Linked DNA regions of Homo sapiens: region 1 is linked to region 2. Evidence: fine-mapped expression QTL. Tissue or cell type: whole blood. Region 2 holds a variant in brackets; the other region holds the start of a gene. All regions are shown on one strand. Distances are from middle to middle.

Evidence for each region. PIP is the estimated chance that this variant, and not a neighbour inherited with it, causes the effect.
Region 1: ZNF276 starts here. The variant in region 2 is fine-mapped to the expression of ZNF276 in whole blood (INTERVAL, PIP above 0.99).

Annotation. Positions count from the first base shown.
Region 1 is chr16:89,717,696-89,725,857 of GRCh38, forward strand. ZNF276 (zinc finger protein 276) reads left to right here and starts at 3,842. Exons shown (of 11, transcript NM_001113525.2): 1 at 3,842-4,150; 2 at 4,836-5,139; 3 at 5,442-5,488; 4 at 5,565-6,014. The coding sequence starts at 3,946. VPS9D1 (VPS9 domain containing 1) reads right to left here and starts at 3,203. Exons shown (of 15, transcript NM_004913.3): 1 at 3,068-3,203; 2 at 1,332-1,407. The coding sequence starts at 3,166. It overlaps VPS9D1-AS1 (VPS9D1 antisense RNA 1), which reads left to right. Exons shown (of 4, transcript NR_036480.1): 4 at 1-470. RefSeq lists an enhancer at 1,415-1,584, a cis regulatory region at 1,500 and silencers at 2,810-3,929, 4,010-4,469.
Region 2 is chr16:89,742,511-89,750,510 of GRCh38, forward strand. It overlaps FANCA (FA complementation group A), which reads right to left. Exons shown (of 43, transcript NM_000135.4): 32 at 7,220-7,392; 33 at 6,149-6,257; 34 at 4,321-4,380; 35 at 4,074-4,178; 36 at 2,449-2,561; 37 at 290-428. Among named protein-coding and RNA genes, the nearest start is that of ZNF276, 25 kb to the left of the region's middle. RefSeq lists enhancers at 959-1,128, 1,625-1,794, 4,191-4,360. The variant G/A (reference allele first, on the strand shown) is at 3,365.

The DNA.
Region 1 (8,162 bases), 25 kb before region 2:
CCTCTGTCTTCTGGGACTTTGCTCTCCCCAGGGGATCCTCTGCCACTCCTCCACCCAACTCCTCAATCTTGGAGCGCCAGAGCTCAGCCGAGCTCACCGGCTCCCTAGGGAGCTGGGGCAACTGTTAGCTCCCCCTGACCTGTGTGATCCTACGTCCAGTGGCTGCCCCGACCTCTGTGATCCCACGTCCAGGGGCTCCCCCGACCTCTGTGATCCCACGTCCAGTGGCTCCCCCGACCTCTGTGCTCCCACGTCCAGTGGCTCCCCCGACCTCTGTGCTCCCACGTCCAGTGGCTCCCCCGACCTCTGTGCTCCCACGTCCAGTGGGTCCCCCTGACCTCTGTGATCCCACGTCCAGTGGCTCCCCCTGACCTCTGTGCTCTATGTCCAGTGGCTCCCCCTGACCTCTGTGATCCTTTGTGCAGCGGCTGCTGGCCTCTCAAACTTAATGTGTTCATTGCGGAACTTGCTATTCCTCTCCTTGCCAGTTTGCTCCTGCCCCATCTGCCTCCTGCAAGTCTGCTCTGTTCCACCTTCAGGACGCACCCCGAGGCCGTTTACTGCTCCCATCCTGGGTGGTCTGGCCACTGCCATCCTCAGTCCTCACCTGAGGCTCCACTCCCAGGCTGTCCTCTCCCTCAAAGCTCAAAGTCTCTTCAAGTTTCCCTGCACACCAGAACGGCCCCAGTTCCACCCAAGGCATGCACACAGCCCCACCCCGCCCACTCCTATTTCAGGGCCTTTGCACACCCCACAGCTGGAATGCTGCCCCACGTCTGTGCCGCTCACTGGAGCCAGTGTCTTGCCACACCCCAGTCTCCATCTTCTTATCCACAACGCTGGTCCCTTCCTGCCACTATATCACACTGAGTGTGGGCTGGTCCACCTACTACAAATGGTCAGGCTAGAAGGATACAAGAGACCCCCGCCGAAGCCTGGCACCCATCAAGGGCTAGGATGCCCACAATTTGTCCAGCATGGAGGAAGCAGCAGGGCTCAGCCATGCCTTTTTCTTTTTCTTTTCTTTTTTTTTTTTTTGAGACGGAGTTTCGCTCTTGTTCCAGGCTGGAGTACAATGGGGTGATCTCGGCTCACTGCAACCTCTGCTCCCGGGTTCAAGCAATTCTCCTGCCTCAGCCTCCCGAGTAGCTGGGACTACAGACACCCGCCACCAGGCCCAGCTGATTTTTTAGATTTTTAGTAGAGACGGGGTTTCACCATGTTAGCCAGGATGGTTTCGATCTCCTGACCTCAGGTGATAGCCCGCCTCTGCCTCCCACAGTGCTGGGATTACAGGCGTGAGCCACCGCGCCCGGCTGGCTGAGCCGTACCTTTAGTGGTTTCCACTTCTTCTAGTAACACCTGGGAGATATAGTGGATGCTCCTCAGGTATTCCGTGTATGCCTCCTGTGTCCAGGAAAGAGAAAGAGTGGGGTCAGGCCAGTGGAGGGAAGTGACTCCATTATTCCGGCCAGGTGCCCTTGTGGGATAAGCAAGGAACACCACCACCTGCTTATCTCTGAGATACACCCAGAGACATTGAGCCTGCGGTGGTTAGCTGCAGCCGGAACACGGTTTTCTGCGCAGGGCACAGGCAGCATCGCTGCTCTCCAGACTTGGAAAAGACATCAGGACCTGAGAGAGAGAGAGAGCCAGGGACGAGCTGGACCTCATTTTCTCCTCTGACTGCCTTTCTCTCCAGCACAGGAACTGATATTCTCATTCAGTGGGCCTGGGGAAGTGACCTCAGCAGTTTGCTGTCATTTTTCATTCTATGCAATGTTTCCTTCTTGTGCAACTCAAGGGTGATTCATTCAGTGGCTTAAAAAAATACTTTTCTGAGAGGATAAAGGGAGTGATACTGGAAGTTTTCAAATCACTTCCCGGTTTAAGTTCCGAGAAATCCCTTTCCCAGAACCTGCGAGTTACGTATTTCCAGTGCACACAGGAGCCTAGAACTGTTACCTTTCAAGGCTGTGTGACCCCTCTGACAAGGCACAGGTCATTGGAACCACAGAATGGTGGTTTGTTTTGTTTTGTTGAGACAGAGTCTCACTCTGTCGCCCAGGCTGGAGTGCAGTGGCAGGATCTCGAGTCACTGCAACCTCCGCCTCCTGGGTTCAAGTGATTCTCATCCCTCAGCCTCCCAAGGAGCTAGGATTACAGGTGTGCACCGCCACACCCAGCTAATTTTTGTATTTTTAGTAGAGACGGGGTTTCACCACGTTGGCCAGGCTGGTCTCAAACTCCTCACCTCAGGTGATCCACCGCCTGGGCCTCCCAAAGTGTCAGGATTACAGGCGTGAACCACAGCGCCCAGCAATATGCTATGTTTTTTTGTTTTATCCCTAGCTGTTAAGTTTCCTATCTTTAAGTCTATGCCTCAGAGAGAAAGACGAAATATAATCCAGGCAGGATTTCTGACTTGCGGGGGCACCTGCTGCCCTAAAAACCAACTTGGGGAAAGCAGCAGATTCAGGAACGAGGCTTCTCCTAGGCACAGGCAGGCTCCTTCCCTCCTTGGGCAGCCGGGTGTGGCTGGGCCAGCTTCTCTACCTGGTCGCCAACCTTAGATTCGGCCCCATCTCAGGAACGGGCCACACCCCTCCGGCCTGCTTTTCCTTCCTAAGACGACTGCAAACAGCATCACAAATGAGCAGGTATGTGGCCTTCTCTGCATGCCGTCCCCTGTGGCAACCGGATTAAATCTACCATCTCTGCCCAGAAAAATGCACGAACGCACGGACCTGCCCGTCACTCGGATTTTGGAAGGTGGCCTGGCGGACCCTCCTGCTACATCTCCTCTACAGGTGGAGCCCAGGCTGTGATGCACCGGCTCAGCGAGCGGAGTGGAAAGCCAAGGTCCGCAGGATCTGAGCTGTCCAAGGTCACTGCACGCCCGGCTGCGCCCCGCCCCCGTCCTCGCCCGGGAACCGCGGCCCGGGATCCCGGCTGGCGCCCGCTCCCAAGTCTCCAGCCCGAGCCGGCCCCGTCCTCGCCCTCCCCGGGCGGGGGTCCCTCCAGGGGCCACCCTCAGCGGCCAAGCCCCGCCCCCGCCCCGCCTCACCCGGGGCCGGTTGCCGGTGTCCAGCTCGATGGCCCCGTTGGCAAGCTTCATGGCGCTCTGCAGCGGCTTCACCGTGCCGTCCCCGGCCGCAGCGGCCATGGCGCCGAGCGGGGGAGGCGGCGGCGGTAGCCGAGGGGCTGGACGGGCGACCGGAGGCCCGGAACGCAGCCGGCGCTGGTGCTGGAGCCGCCCGAGCAGCGGACCGCAGGAAGGGACGCGGCCGCACTTCCGGCGACGGGCCCCCTCCGCGCGTACTGCGGGCCCCACGGGTGTTAGTGGCGGGGGCGGCAGAGTCCGGGTGGGTTGTCGCGACGGAGCCGGGCCTCTTCGCCGTCTTGAGACGGGGCTGGCGAGAAGGGCCCCTCACGGAGTTGCCATGGGCGTCTAACCGCGGCAGCCAGGCCCCTCTCTACGTGAGACCCCGGCCCCCCTCCCCTTTCTGCAGCCCGCCCGCCACCTGCGCGCCGCGTGGCCTCCGCCGGCGCCTGCCCGCCCCGCGCCTCCGTCTCCCACGGTAAGAGGCGGTGAGGGCCGCGTCGCCTCTCCCTGGAGGACTCGTCGTGAGGTGTCGGCGAGCCCCTCCGCCCACCGCCCCGCCCCAGGCCAGCGCTCCATTGGCGACAGAGGCGGGCACGGCCGCCCTCGGGCCCGAGAGGGGAGCGGTACGAGCGGGGGCGCTGGCACCGCGGGTGGAACCTCGGCCGGCGGGGTCCCGCCCCTGGCCCCTGGCCCGCCCCGCCCGCCTCGCTTTGCTTCTCGCTCCGCCCCTCCCCCGCCCCGCCTCGCTTCCAGCGCGCCGAGCGGAGCCTAACGCCGGGTCCTCTAGGAACCTCGGGCCGGGCAGCACCCGCGGGATTCTGCTGGCGTCCTCCGCTGCCATGAAGCGGGACCGGCTGGGCCGCTTCCTGTCTCCTGGGTCGTCCCGACAGTGCGGGGCCTCGGACGGCGGCGGCGGCGTCAGCCGGACTCGGGGCCGCCCTTCCCTTAGCGGTGGGCCGAGGGTGGACGGGGCGACGGCGCGGCGCGCCTGGGGCCCGGTGGGGTCCTGCGGGGACGCGGGCGAGGACGGCGCGGACGAGGCAGGTGGGTCCGCGGCCCGGGCGTGGCGGGTTGGGGTCGCGGCAGGGGTTGCTCGTGGGAGGAGCCGCACTGACGCCCGGAAGCCGGCGCGGCCTCTCCTCCACCCGGCCAAGGGCGTAGCGGACTCGGGGCTGCGTCGGGATAGGCGCTGGGCGGCCGGCTCGGTTTTCCTCGCGCTCCGTGACGCCGGCGTCGCCGGCCCGGCCTCCCCGGCCGCGGGCTCGGCCAGAAGGGACCCGGCGTGAGGAGCGCTGTCACCGCGGGCAGGTCGCCCTGGGGTGCCCGCGCGTGGGAATCGCCCTCCCCTGCTTCGTGCCCTCGCGGAGCCGGAAAGGAGGCGGCACCTGCAATTGGCAGACAGGAAACCGCGGCGTTTCCTGGAGGGCGCAGCGCCTGCCCCGGGTCTCGCGGTCGCTGGGAGGAGGGTGCAGTTCCAGGTTTCACTCTTGAAGTTGCTTCGCTGGAGAGGCCTTAGAGGCCTTTGAAATTTGAAAGATTTCTTGGACCAGCGGCCACATCCCCCACAGGGCGGCTTGTCCCGCCGAGAGCCGCGCGCCCGAGCCGCTTGCTGTGTCCGGGAGCCGCGCGAAGGGCGCTGCAGGCGCTGCCCTCGGACCTGGAGTCCGGGACGCCCTGTGCTCAGGAGCCTCCTTTGCCAGCTGCTAACACTTCCTGCCGCTCTGTGCAGGAGCAGGCCGGGCTCTCGCCATGGGTCACTGTCGCCTCTGCCACGGGAAGTTTTCCTCGAGAAGCCTGCGCAGCATCTCCGAGAGGGCGCCTGGAGCGAGCATGGAGAGGCCATCCGCAGAGGAGCGCGTGCTCGTACGGGACTTCCAGCGCCTGCTTGGTGTGGCTGTCCGCCAGGACCCCACCTTGTCTCCGTTTGTCTGCAAGAGCTGCCACGCCCAGTTCTACCAGTGCCACAGCCTTCTCAAGTCCTTCCTGCAGAGGGTCAACGCCTCCCCGGCTGGTCGCCGGAAGCCTTGTGCAAAGTACGCCCTAGTCTGTTCAGAGCACGTTCAGGCTGTCAGTACTGCAGTGTGACGGGTGTTGAGAGAGGGACAGGGCGTGCCTCCGCGGGAGCCTCTGGGTGGGGGGAATGGGCCATGCCCGGGTTCAGTGCCAACAGCCCTGGGACTGTTGTGGAGAGATGAACTGGGAGGAGCTGGGGTGAGGGAAGAGAAAGTTGCCTATGGGGACCGCTGAGGTTTGAGATCTCGAGAGGGTCCCGTACGACGAGCGCTGTGAACCTCCGCCTGCTTGTCCTGCTCATGGCCACACTGATCCTTTGCAGGGTCGGTGCCCAGCCCCCAACAGGGGCAGAGGAGGGAGCGTGTCTGGGTGAGTCCTCCCCCGGTGGAGGGTGGGCTGGGTGCCGACCAGCCGTGGATCTGACATCTCTGTTGACTCTCTGCAGTGGATCTGATCACATCCAGCCCCCAGTGCCTGCACGGCTTGGTGGGGTGGGTGCATGGACATGCGGCCAGCTGCGGGGCCCTGCCCCACCTTCAGAGGACACTGTCCTCCGAGTACTGCGGCGTCATCCAGGTCGTGTGGGGCTGCGACCAGGGCCACGACTACACCATGGATACCAGCTCCAGCTGCAAGGCCTTCTTGCTGGACAGTGCGCTGGCAGTCAAGTGGCCATGGGACAAAGAGACGGCGCCACGGCTGCCCCAGCACCGAGGGTGGAACCCTGGGGATGCCCCTCAGACCTCCCAGGGTAGAGGGACAGGGACCCCAGTTGGGGCTGAGACCAAGACCCTGCCCAGCACGGATGTGGCCCAGCCTCCTTCGGACAGCGACGCGGTGGGGCCCAGGTCGGGCTTCCCACCTCAGCCAAGCCTGCCCCTTTGCAGGGCCCCAGGTAGGAGGCACCTCTTGCTGGTGCTAGACCAGGATGTGTGCTCCTCAGTGGGGCAGGGTTTTCAGCAGAAAGTGAATGTCTCCACTGCTCTAGGTGGTGGCTGGGGTGTGGTGTGAGAAGGAGCAGAGCTTGGGGCTTCTGCCTGCGGCTGCTCACCACATCCAGAGAGCAGGGAGGGGCGGCCAGCCTGTCTCCGCCTCTTGCTCCTCTGTGAGCAGGGCTCTGTTCCAGCAGTTTCTGTGGAGACACGCTCATCAGCCGTCGAGTCTTTTTCTAAGCCTGTGCTTGGGGCTGAGGGGACTGAGGAAGAGGGAAGAATAGGGCCTTGTCTGTGGATGTGGGAGAAAAGAATGGCCGTTGCCTCTGCGGCTGCTGCCCTGGGCCAGCTGCAGGTCATTTCCTGGCACTCAGCCAGCCGCCTGGTGACACCCTGGTGTGGGCCAGTGTGGCGCAGCTTTCTCTGCTGACAGGCTGAGGGGAAACACAAGGCCCTTGTTTGGGCCCCAGAACCCATAGCACTGTGGGCTGGTGCAGCTGCTCCTGGATGTTGTTTTAGGAGGGCCAGGGCCAGTTTCCCTCCGGCCTCTTGTCCTGTGTGTGCTCTGTGCACCTGTCCCCACCTGAGCACTCAGTTCCCACTTTGAGTCTTGAGGGGAGCTTCCGAAAAGCGTAGCTACCTGTAATCCCAGCACTTTGGGAGGCTGAGGTGGGTGGATCACTTGAGGTCACGAGATCAAGACCAACCTGGCCAACATAGCGAAACCCCATCGCTAATAAAAATACAAAAACTAGCCAGGTATGGTGGTGGGCATCTGTAATCCCAGCTACTCTGGAGGCTGAGGCACGAGAATCACTTCAGCCTGGGAGGCGGAAGTTGCAGTGAGCCGACATCGCACAACCGTACTCCAGCCTGGGTGACAGAGCAAGACTCTGTCCCAAACAGAAACACAGCTACCCAGATAGTTTAGCTAGATACGGGTGCACAGATGAGACAGTGCGGCTCGGGGGCCTCAGGTAGGAACGGGATTGTGAGTGTCACATCTTAGAGCTGCTTGGCTCTGTAAACTTGTATGCAGTGTGTTGAGAACAATTCTATCTATCTGTGTATCTATCTACCTACCTACCTATCTATCTTCCTACTTCTTTGTCTCTCTCTATCTACCTACCTATCTGTATATCTATGTATCTACTTATCTACCTATTTATCTATTTATTTACCTACTTATCTATCTATCTATGTGTTTATTTATTTTTGAGACAGAGTCTCGTTTTGTAGCCCAGGCTGGAGTGCGGTGGTGCCATCTTGGCTCACCGCTACCTCAGCCTCCCGAGTAGCTGGGATGACAGGCACATGCCACCACGCCCACCTAATTTTTGTATTTTTAGTAGAGATGGGGTTTCACCATGTGGGCCAGGCTTGGTCTCGAACTCCTGACCTCGTGATCCACCTGCCTCAGCCTCCCGAGTAGCTGGGATGACGGGCACGTGCCACCACGCCCACCTAATTTTTGTATTTTTAGTAGAGATGGGGTTTCACCATGTTGGCCAGGCTTGGTCTCGAACTCCTGACCTCGTGATCCACCTGCCTCAGCCTCCCGAGTAGCTGGGATGATGGGCACGCGCCACTACGCCCACCTAATTTTTGTATTTTTAGTAGAGATGGGGTTTCACCATGTTGGCCAGGCTTGGTCTTGAACTCCTGACCTCGTGATCCACCTGCATCAGCCTCCCAGAATGCTGGGATTACAGGTGTGAACCACCGCGCCCAGCCAAGAACAATACTTTTTAAAACTTATTTTAGGCCAAGTGCAGTGGTTCACGCCTGTAATCCCAGCACTCTGGGATGCTGAGGTAGGCGGATCACGGGGTCAGGAGATCGAGACCATCCTGACTAACACGGTGAAACCCCATCTCTACTAAAAATACAAAAAATTAGCTGGATGTGGCTGTGGTTGCCTGTAGGCCCAGCTACTTGGGAGGCTGAGGCAGGAGAATCGCTTGACCCTGGGAGGCGGAGATTGCAGTGAGCTGAGATTCTACCACTACGCTCTGGCCTGACCGACAGAGCAAGATTCTGTCTAAAAAAGAAAAAAACAAAACAAAGAAAACTTATTTTAAGTAGAGACAGGGTCTCACTCTTTTGCCCAG
Region 2 (8,000 bases):
AAGTCTTACTCCAAGCCAGCTGGGCGTGGTGGCTCACGCCTGTAATCCCAGCACTTTGGGAGGCCAAGGCGGGAGGATCACGGGGTCAGGAGATCGAGACCATCCTGGCTAACACAGTGAAACCCCGTCTCTACTAAAAATACAAAAAAAAAAAAAAAAAAAAAAAGTCTTGCTCCAAGCCACATATTTGTCTTTAGAAAAACAGTTCATCAGACAAGCCCAGAGAAATAGCACTGATTGAAACCAAGCTTGCGAGAAAATAAATCAGTAAAAGAATTTCCTATCTTGCCTCCTCTCTCTCGCAGTCCAGCTTCTTTAGCTGCTTCCTGATGTTTTCTTCCCTGACTTGTTGAATCGCAAAGTGCAGTGCAGCAGCTGAGAGCCAGTCCGGGTTGGGTGCTGGGGAGGCAGCCTCAGGGGAGAGGAAACTGGGACAGAGAGAACGGGGTCATTGCAGGGCCTTACAACCATACAACCACGCCATAGAAACCAAGTCCTTATTCCCACCTGTCACCTTTGGGGCCTGCCTTTCCATCAGAGGACAGAGAAGGGTTTCAGGACCATCAGAAACTAGGTCTGCATCCCCCAGGTCCACGTGAGAGTGTGGGCAGGTGCTGGTGCTGCCCCCACAGCATCCTGGCGTTCTGAGAGCTGCTGACTGAGCAGGCAGCTGGCCTGGTCCTGTCTACCTTGCCCTGTGCTCTTGGGCCCCAGCTGCCTACATTTTGGAAGAAGAGGCCTCATTTTCCTCAGTTGCCCATGCCTGGCCCTGTGGATCAGGCATTCCCTCCTACAACAGAGAACAAAGGACTGCCTGGCTCTGGCCCCAGTGTGGTGTCTGAGTTTTCTGGCTGGTTAAAAAATTGGTAGGAAATTAATGAAACAATGCTGTGGTTTAAGAGACTTTAAATAAGCTGGGCATGACGGTTCACATCTGCAATCATAGCACTTCAGGAGGATCGCTTAAGCCCAGCAGTTTGAGATCTGCCTGGGCAACACAGTGAGACTCAATCTCAAATAAACAAAAACGAGGCAGGGCGTGGTGGTTCACGCCTGTAATCCCAGCACTTTGGGAGGCTGAGGCAGGCAGATCACCTGAGGTCGGGAGTTCGAGACCAGCCTGACCAACGTGGAGAAACCCTGTCTCTACTAAAAATACAAAATTAGCCAGGCATGGTGGCTCACGCCTGTAATCCCAGCTACTCAGGAGACTGAGGCAGGAGGATCGCTTGAACCTGGGAGGCGGAGGTCATGGTGAGCCGAGATCGTGCCATCTCACTCTAGGGTGGGTGACAAGAGTGAAACTCTGTCTCAAACAAAACAAAACAAAAAACAAAACTTCAGACAATCTGATCTGTGTTTGTAGAATTAGAACTGGAGGTGTGACCTGCTTTCTCCTTTTTTGAGATGGAGTTTCTCTCTCATTGCCCATGCTGGACTACAATGGCATGATCTCGGCTCACTGCAACCTCCACCTCCTGGGTTCAAGCAATTCTCCTGCCTCAGCCTCCTGAGTAGCTGGGACTACAGGCGCACACTATCACACCCAGCTCATTTCTGTATTTTCAGTAGAGATTGTTTCACATGTTGGCCAGGCTGGTCTCAAACTCCTGACCTCAGGTGATCCACCTGCCTTGGCCTCCCAAAGTGCTGGGATTACAGGTGTGCGCCACCGCGCCGGGGCCCTCTTCTCTTCTTTCAGCAGACGGCGAGCAGCCAAACCCTGAGGGGACCCGGTGTGGCATCAGTGATTCAAAACTAGTCACAAAGTAAGGTGTTCTCCAAGGAGGCAGGATGGGTACTAGCAGTGCCCTCTGACGACCCCTTAAGAACACGGCACCCACATTCAGCAGGTGGAGTGGCTGTCAGCTCTGTGGTCCTCAGAAGGGTGTGTGAGCCTGGATTGCGCCAGGAGCTTGATGGTTTGCAAGGACCCGTGAATATCTGACTGGGGTCGACAGGTCAGGGTAGGCTGAGAATCTGCATCCCTGAGGTCCCCATGACACTGACCCTACCAGCACGCGGTGCACTCTAGGAGCCCACATTAGATTTAAGAGGAAGGGGAGCAGGTGCAAAGGAATCACTCGAGCTCCTCACTCAGACGGGAGCCTGGGAGAGGCCGTTCCTCACTCAGACGAGACACTGGCAGAGGCTGTTTTTTTTTTTGTTTTTTTTCTGGACAGAGTCTTGCTCTATTGGCCGTTGGAGTGATCTCGGCTCACTGGAAACTCCACCTCCTGGGTTCAACTGATTCTCCTGCCTCGGCCTCCCCAGTAGTTGGGATTACAGGCGCCCACCACCACGAGAACTCGGTTCTTTTCTCCCTGCTCACACGAGAGGCTGCCCACACCGCTTCTCTCAAGCAAGCCAGGGTGTTTAGGAGATGACCTTGAGCAGGTCCCGAAGTGCATCTGGGCGGGCACACCCCATCTCACCACCCACACGTACTCGCTGGCAAACTGCCGGCCTTCTTGTAGCTTCTGCAGTTCCCGGGGCAGCGGGCTCTGGCAGTGTCTCCTCCACCGGCAGAGCAGCACAGGCTCCAGGCTCGGCCACCACACCTATGGAGAGAGCACCAGCACACAGATGAGGGTGGCTGAGATGGACACACCTCCGCTGCCCCAGCCATGACAAGCCCCCAGTGCTCCTACAGGCCACTACAGGCCCACACTCGCCCTGCGCTCTGGAACTCCAAAGCCAGTATTTTTTACGTCAATTAAGGCTCAAAGCAGTTCCATGAGGCATTTATTACCCACACTCATGGAAGACGTGGAATTTGGAGAAGGAAGAGCCTGGCCTAACGCAACAGTGAAGGGACCACACTCCCCTGAGCTGGGAACGAAACAGTGAAGGGACCACAGTCCCCTGAGCTGGGAATGAAACAGTGAAGGGACCACACTCCTCTGAGCTGGGAACAAAACAGTGAAGGGACCACACTCCTCTGAGCTGGGAACAAAACAGTGAAGGGACCACACTCCTCTGAGCTGGGAACGAAACAGTGAAGGGACCACACTGCCCTGAGCTGGGAACGAAACAGTGAAGGGACCACACTCCTCTGAGCTGGGAACAAAACAGTGAAGGGACCACACTGCCCTGAGCTGGGAACGAAACAGTGAAGGGACCACACTCCTCTGAGCTGGGAACAAAACAGTGAAGGGACCACACTGCCCTGAGCTGGGAACAAAACAGTGAAGGGACCACACTCCTCTGAGCTGGGAACAAAACAGTGAAGGGACCACACTGCCCTGAGCTGGGAACGAAACAGTGAAGGGACCACACTCCTCTGAGCTGGGAACGAAACAGTGAAGAGACCACACTGCCCTGAGCTGGGAATGCCTGGTCCTTGGATGCCCTCAGCTGAGAG[G/A]TGGCGTTCTAAACACCGAAGAGTTCATTTCTCACGAATTCCACCAACTGAGCTACAACTCGGTGCAAATGCAGCCTGCTTGGGGAGCTCCCTGGGGAACATGCCGTGCTGCGGAGAAAAAGGCCCTCCTGTCCCTGATGACCGAGAAGGAAGGGCGACAGCTGTGGTCTTCAGGACTAAGTGAGCCGCCAGGGAAGTGAGGGAAATGCTGCCCTCCTCCCACTCTCGGGACCCTGGGCTGCTAGGGGAGCCTGCTGAGCTCTGGCGGGAGCTGAGGTGAAGTCTCTGCTCCGAAGTCCCAAGAAAGCATAGTCAGGCGCAAGTGGGCCACAGTCATGCTCTCGTGACGGGGCACAGGCAGCCACCGTACAGCCTCCAGCCAGTGCACAACCCAAGACCGTGAACAAACAAGCCCTGCACCCCTGTGGACATGAAGGTGCCCGTGGGGTCTGAGTGGGGTCCACAGGGGAGAAGTCCTGCGGGTGCCATGGTGACGGCGGTGGGGGCAGGGACGGTTCTGGGAACTCAGGATGTGCGGCCCTCATCTGCTATGAGCTGGCATCTTTAACTGTGGCTTCCATGTCTCCTGATGCATTTTCCCTGAGATGGTAACACCCGTGATGGAGACGTGCTGCAGAGATGCCAGAGGCAGCTGTGGAGTCTCCCACTCATCCCCAAAACAAAACACCAAACAAGACAGCTGACCCACCAGAGCAGAGGTCAAAATTAAGGGGCATTTCGTCTGGCACTTGGCCAGTATGAAGTCGACCATCAGGGAGGGGTCTCTGCTCCGCAGACAGGCGTTCAGGAGGCCCTGCAGGAGAGAACGCAGCAGGAGGTCAGCGGTTTGTGAGGACCCACAACTAGTAGAGTGAAGGAACTCACAGGAAGCTGACAGGAGGATCCACCCACGGCGTTCTGAGAAGGCCACGAGAGGGGCTGAGGGAGCATCTCACCCTGAAGAAGTGGGCAGTGATGTCCTGTGTCAGGGCACCTCCGTGGGAGCAGAAGTTTCTCTGCAAAAGAGTTCAAGGCAGGTAAGAAAAGCCCACAGGAAGAGAGGCGAGACCAACATGCAGAGTGGCTGCTGTGGATTCAGTTTTGAGAAAAACACTCGCTAAGGCTTGGCGTGGCCACCATGGATGGTGCTCCTGGGCTGACCGGGCCTGGCGCCCTGGCTGTGCTGTCCTGAAACTTAACGGCTTCCCTGGGCGGCCAGATCCTGCAGCCCACCAGCTCTGGCCCAAACAGTCTTGTAGGCTCCAGGAAGAAGCCAGGGAGGCACAAGCAGCCGCAGGGAAGGGGACGCACCCGGAGCGTAGAACTGTGGTGAGGACGACACTAATACCAAGGGCCAACCATCCTCTGGTCCCTTCACTAACCAAGTGCTGTCTATGGTGTTTTCCTGTCTGTCGGCTGTCACGTGCCAACTGAGAGCTTTCTGAAAAACAGCCATTCATAAGAATTCAAAGGAGACCATAGTGATTTTCTGAAAGCTTTTGCTAGTCTCACGTCCTCTGCTTTCCTTGTCACATTTTGAAGTGCTGCACAAGGCCGGGCTCACACCTGTAATCCCAGCACTTTGGGAGGCCAAGGCGGGTGGATCACGAGGTCAGGAGTTCAAGACCAGACTGACCAACATGGTAAAACGTCATCTCTACTAAAAATACAAAACTTAGCCGGTCATGGCGGCAGGCACCTGTAGTCCCAGCTACTCAGGAGGCTGAGGCAGGAGAATCGCTTGAACCTGGGAGGCGGAGGTTGCAGGGTGAGCCAAGATTTCACTGCTGCACTCCAGCCTGGGCGACAGAGCAAGACTCTGTCTCAAAAAATAAATAAATAAATAAATAAATAAAAATATAAAATGCTGCACAGCTGGCATGGAACCTGAATTCCATCTCTCACATTTGTGCATCTTCAAAAACAAGAAAAAGGCCTTCGGGAGCAGAAGCTGCTCTCTGTAGAGTGGGAGGGGCTGGTATCCGTCTCCCCAGCTCTGACCAACTGGGTCCCTACGCTGCCCGTCCCCACAGCGAGTGTCACTTCTTTTTATTTGAGACAAGAGTTTCGCTCTGTCACCCAGGCTGGAGTGTAGTGGTGGGATCTTGGCTCAGTGCAACTCTGCCTCCTGGGCTCAATTACTCCTCCTGACCCAGCCTCTCAAGTAGGTGGGAGTACAGGCGTGCACCACCATACCCAGCTAATTTTTCTATTTTTTGTAGAAACAGGGTTTTGTCATGTTGCCCAGGCTGGTCTCGAACTCCTGGGCTCAAGTGATCCCCCACCTTTCCAGAGTGCTGGGATTACGGGCGTGAGCCACCGCACCCAGCCTGCTGGTTAAGATCACCCTGCAACTCACGCTGGGCAGTGTCTAAAATGGAAGATAACTGGGCTGCCTGGCAGGCAACAGCGGTAGTCAGATCACCACAAGGCTTTTTTTACACATGAAGCATGTTGAGATTAGAAATAAATGAACCGAGGTGCGTGGCACACAAAATGGTCTGTACGATTCCATGTGTCAAAATCATTAAAACTTGAGGGAAACTAAAGGAACTCAAACTTGGGAGAAGGCAACCTACAGCTGGTTTGGTGATGTGCTGGTCGCCGTCCTGGCTGTGGGTGGGGTCCTCCCTCACATGGCATTCCAGACACTGTTCCCTATTTGACTTTGAACCCTTTCCTCAGTAATTCACACGGTCAGTACACGCATGGAGGCTGCAAGAGCTGCTGTTAGCGCCACAGGCACTGACAGATCGGACGGACACGTGCACACGGGGCACCTACCATCTCAGAGTTGACCAAGTGGAAGAACTGCTCGCATCTGGCAGTGATGGGCTGTTCTGCCTGGAAGCTGCTGCCGCAGAGGACAGACGAAGGCAGGCGGAGGAGGATCCTGGAAAGAAGGGGCTGTATTGGTGGCGACAGCACAGCGTACACTCTGCTCCTTCCCAAGGGCTCAGACTCTCAGAGCAGCAACCACCACCCTGAAACCCAGGGCCACTGTTGGAACCAGAGCCTTGGCCTGTGTCCCTCTGTCCCATCCAAAGCCTGCACTCTGAGCCCACCTCCCCTATACTGTGTTTGGCCCACTGCATTCAAAATGTGTTACCAAACAAACAACTTTTAACAGTTACATAATAACCAACAACTTCTGACAGTTACACGATAACCAAGTGGATGACGCACCAGTCTGTCTAGTGAAGCAATTCCCTATGACTGTAAAATTAAATGACTCCACGCTGCTTCTTATAAATGCAGCCGCCGTGGGCATTTCTGAACACTTTTCCCTACTTTCACAAGAGCTCCTTCTGCGACGTCCCTCCACGTCTGAGCAGGAAGGTTTTGTTGTTGTTGTTGAGACAGAGTCTCGCTCTGTTGCCCAGGCTGGTGTGCAATGGCGTGATCTCGGCTCACTGAAACCTCTGCCTCCCAGGTTCACACCACTCTCCTGCCTCAGTCTCCCGAGTAGCTGGGATTACAGGTGCCCGCCACCACACCTAGCTAAATTTTTTTGTATTTTTTTTGTATTTTTAGTAGACATGGCGTTTCGCCATGTTGGTCAGGCTGGTCTCAAACTCCTGACCTCAGGTGATCCACTCACCTCAGCCTCCCAAAATGCTAGGATTACAGGCATGAACCACCTCGCTTGGCTGGAAGGTTTTAATCAAAAGTACTTTCAACCCTCCAGATCCTCTTCTCCGTGGCATGTGCCACAGAAATGGACAGGCTTGGGGTGGGGACACACAGACAAGTAAGTAACGGGAAACAAACTCACTACAAAGAACCTCTAGGACCGTCATGAGATGCTGCCCTGCCCAGGTGGTGCTGCCCTGCCCAGGTGGTAGTAGGTGTTACCGTTTGTACATTAGCAGCTCCCTCTGTCTCTGAAGGCTGGCAGCCACGCTCCACCCGCTTGTCAGAGCCTGGAGCCGTCTGCGGAAAATCTCAAAGAGGAAGTGCTCCTGGGAAGGGGTGTGGCCGAGAGGCACTATGAGGTCTTGCTGCAGCTCCAGGTCAGCTACCATCTCCTGAAAAAGAGCAGTATGCTGGCACAGGAAGGCCTCGGGGCTCACTGCCCAGCCAGTCGGGGACCCAGACGTCAGGGGTCAGGGAGAGGTCTCCACAGTGGACAGGGCAAGAAGGAACAAGTGGGGCAAGCTATTTCAATTGGAAATCACTTTGAAATTGCAAATATAGAACAGTGCAGGCCGGGTGCTGTGGCTCACGTCTGTAATGCCAGCACTTTGGGAGGCCGAGGCAGGCAGATTCCTTGAGCCCAGGAGTTACAGTACTACTTATCAACTACTTATCAATTAAGAAAAAACAGCTGGGCGTGGTGGCTCATGCCTGTAATCCCAGCACTTTGGGAGGCCAAGGCAGGAGGATCACGAGGTCAGGAGATGGAGACCATCCTGGCTAACATGGTGAAACCCTGTCGCTACTAAAAAATACAAAAAAATTAGCTGGGCATGGTGGCGGGTGCCTGTAGTCCCAGCGACTCAGGCGGCTGAGGCAGGAGAATGGCGTGAACCCGGGAGGTGGAGCTTGCAGTGAGCCCAGATCGCACCACTGCACTTCAGACTGGGCAACAGAGTGAGACTCCGTCTCAAAAAAAAACAAACAAAAAAAAACAGCC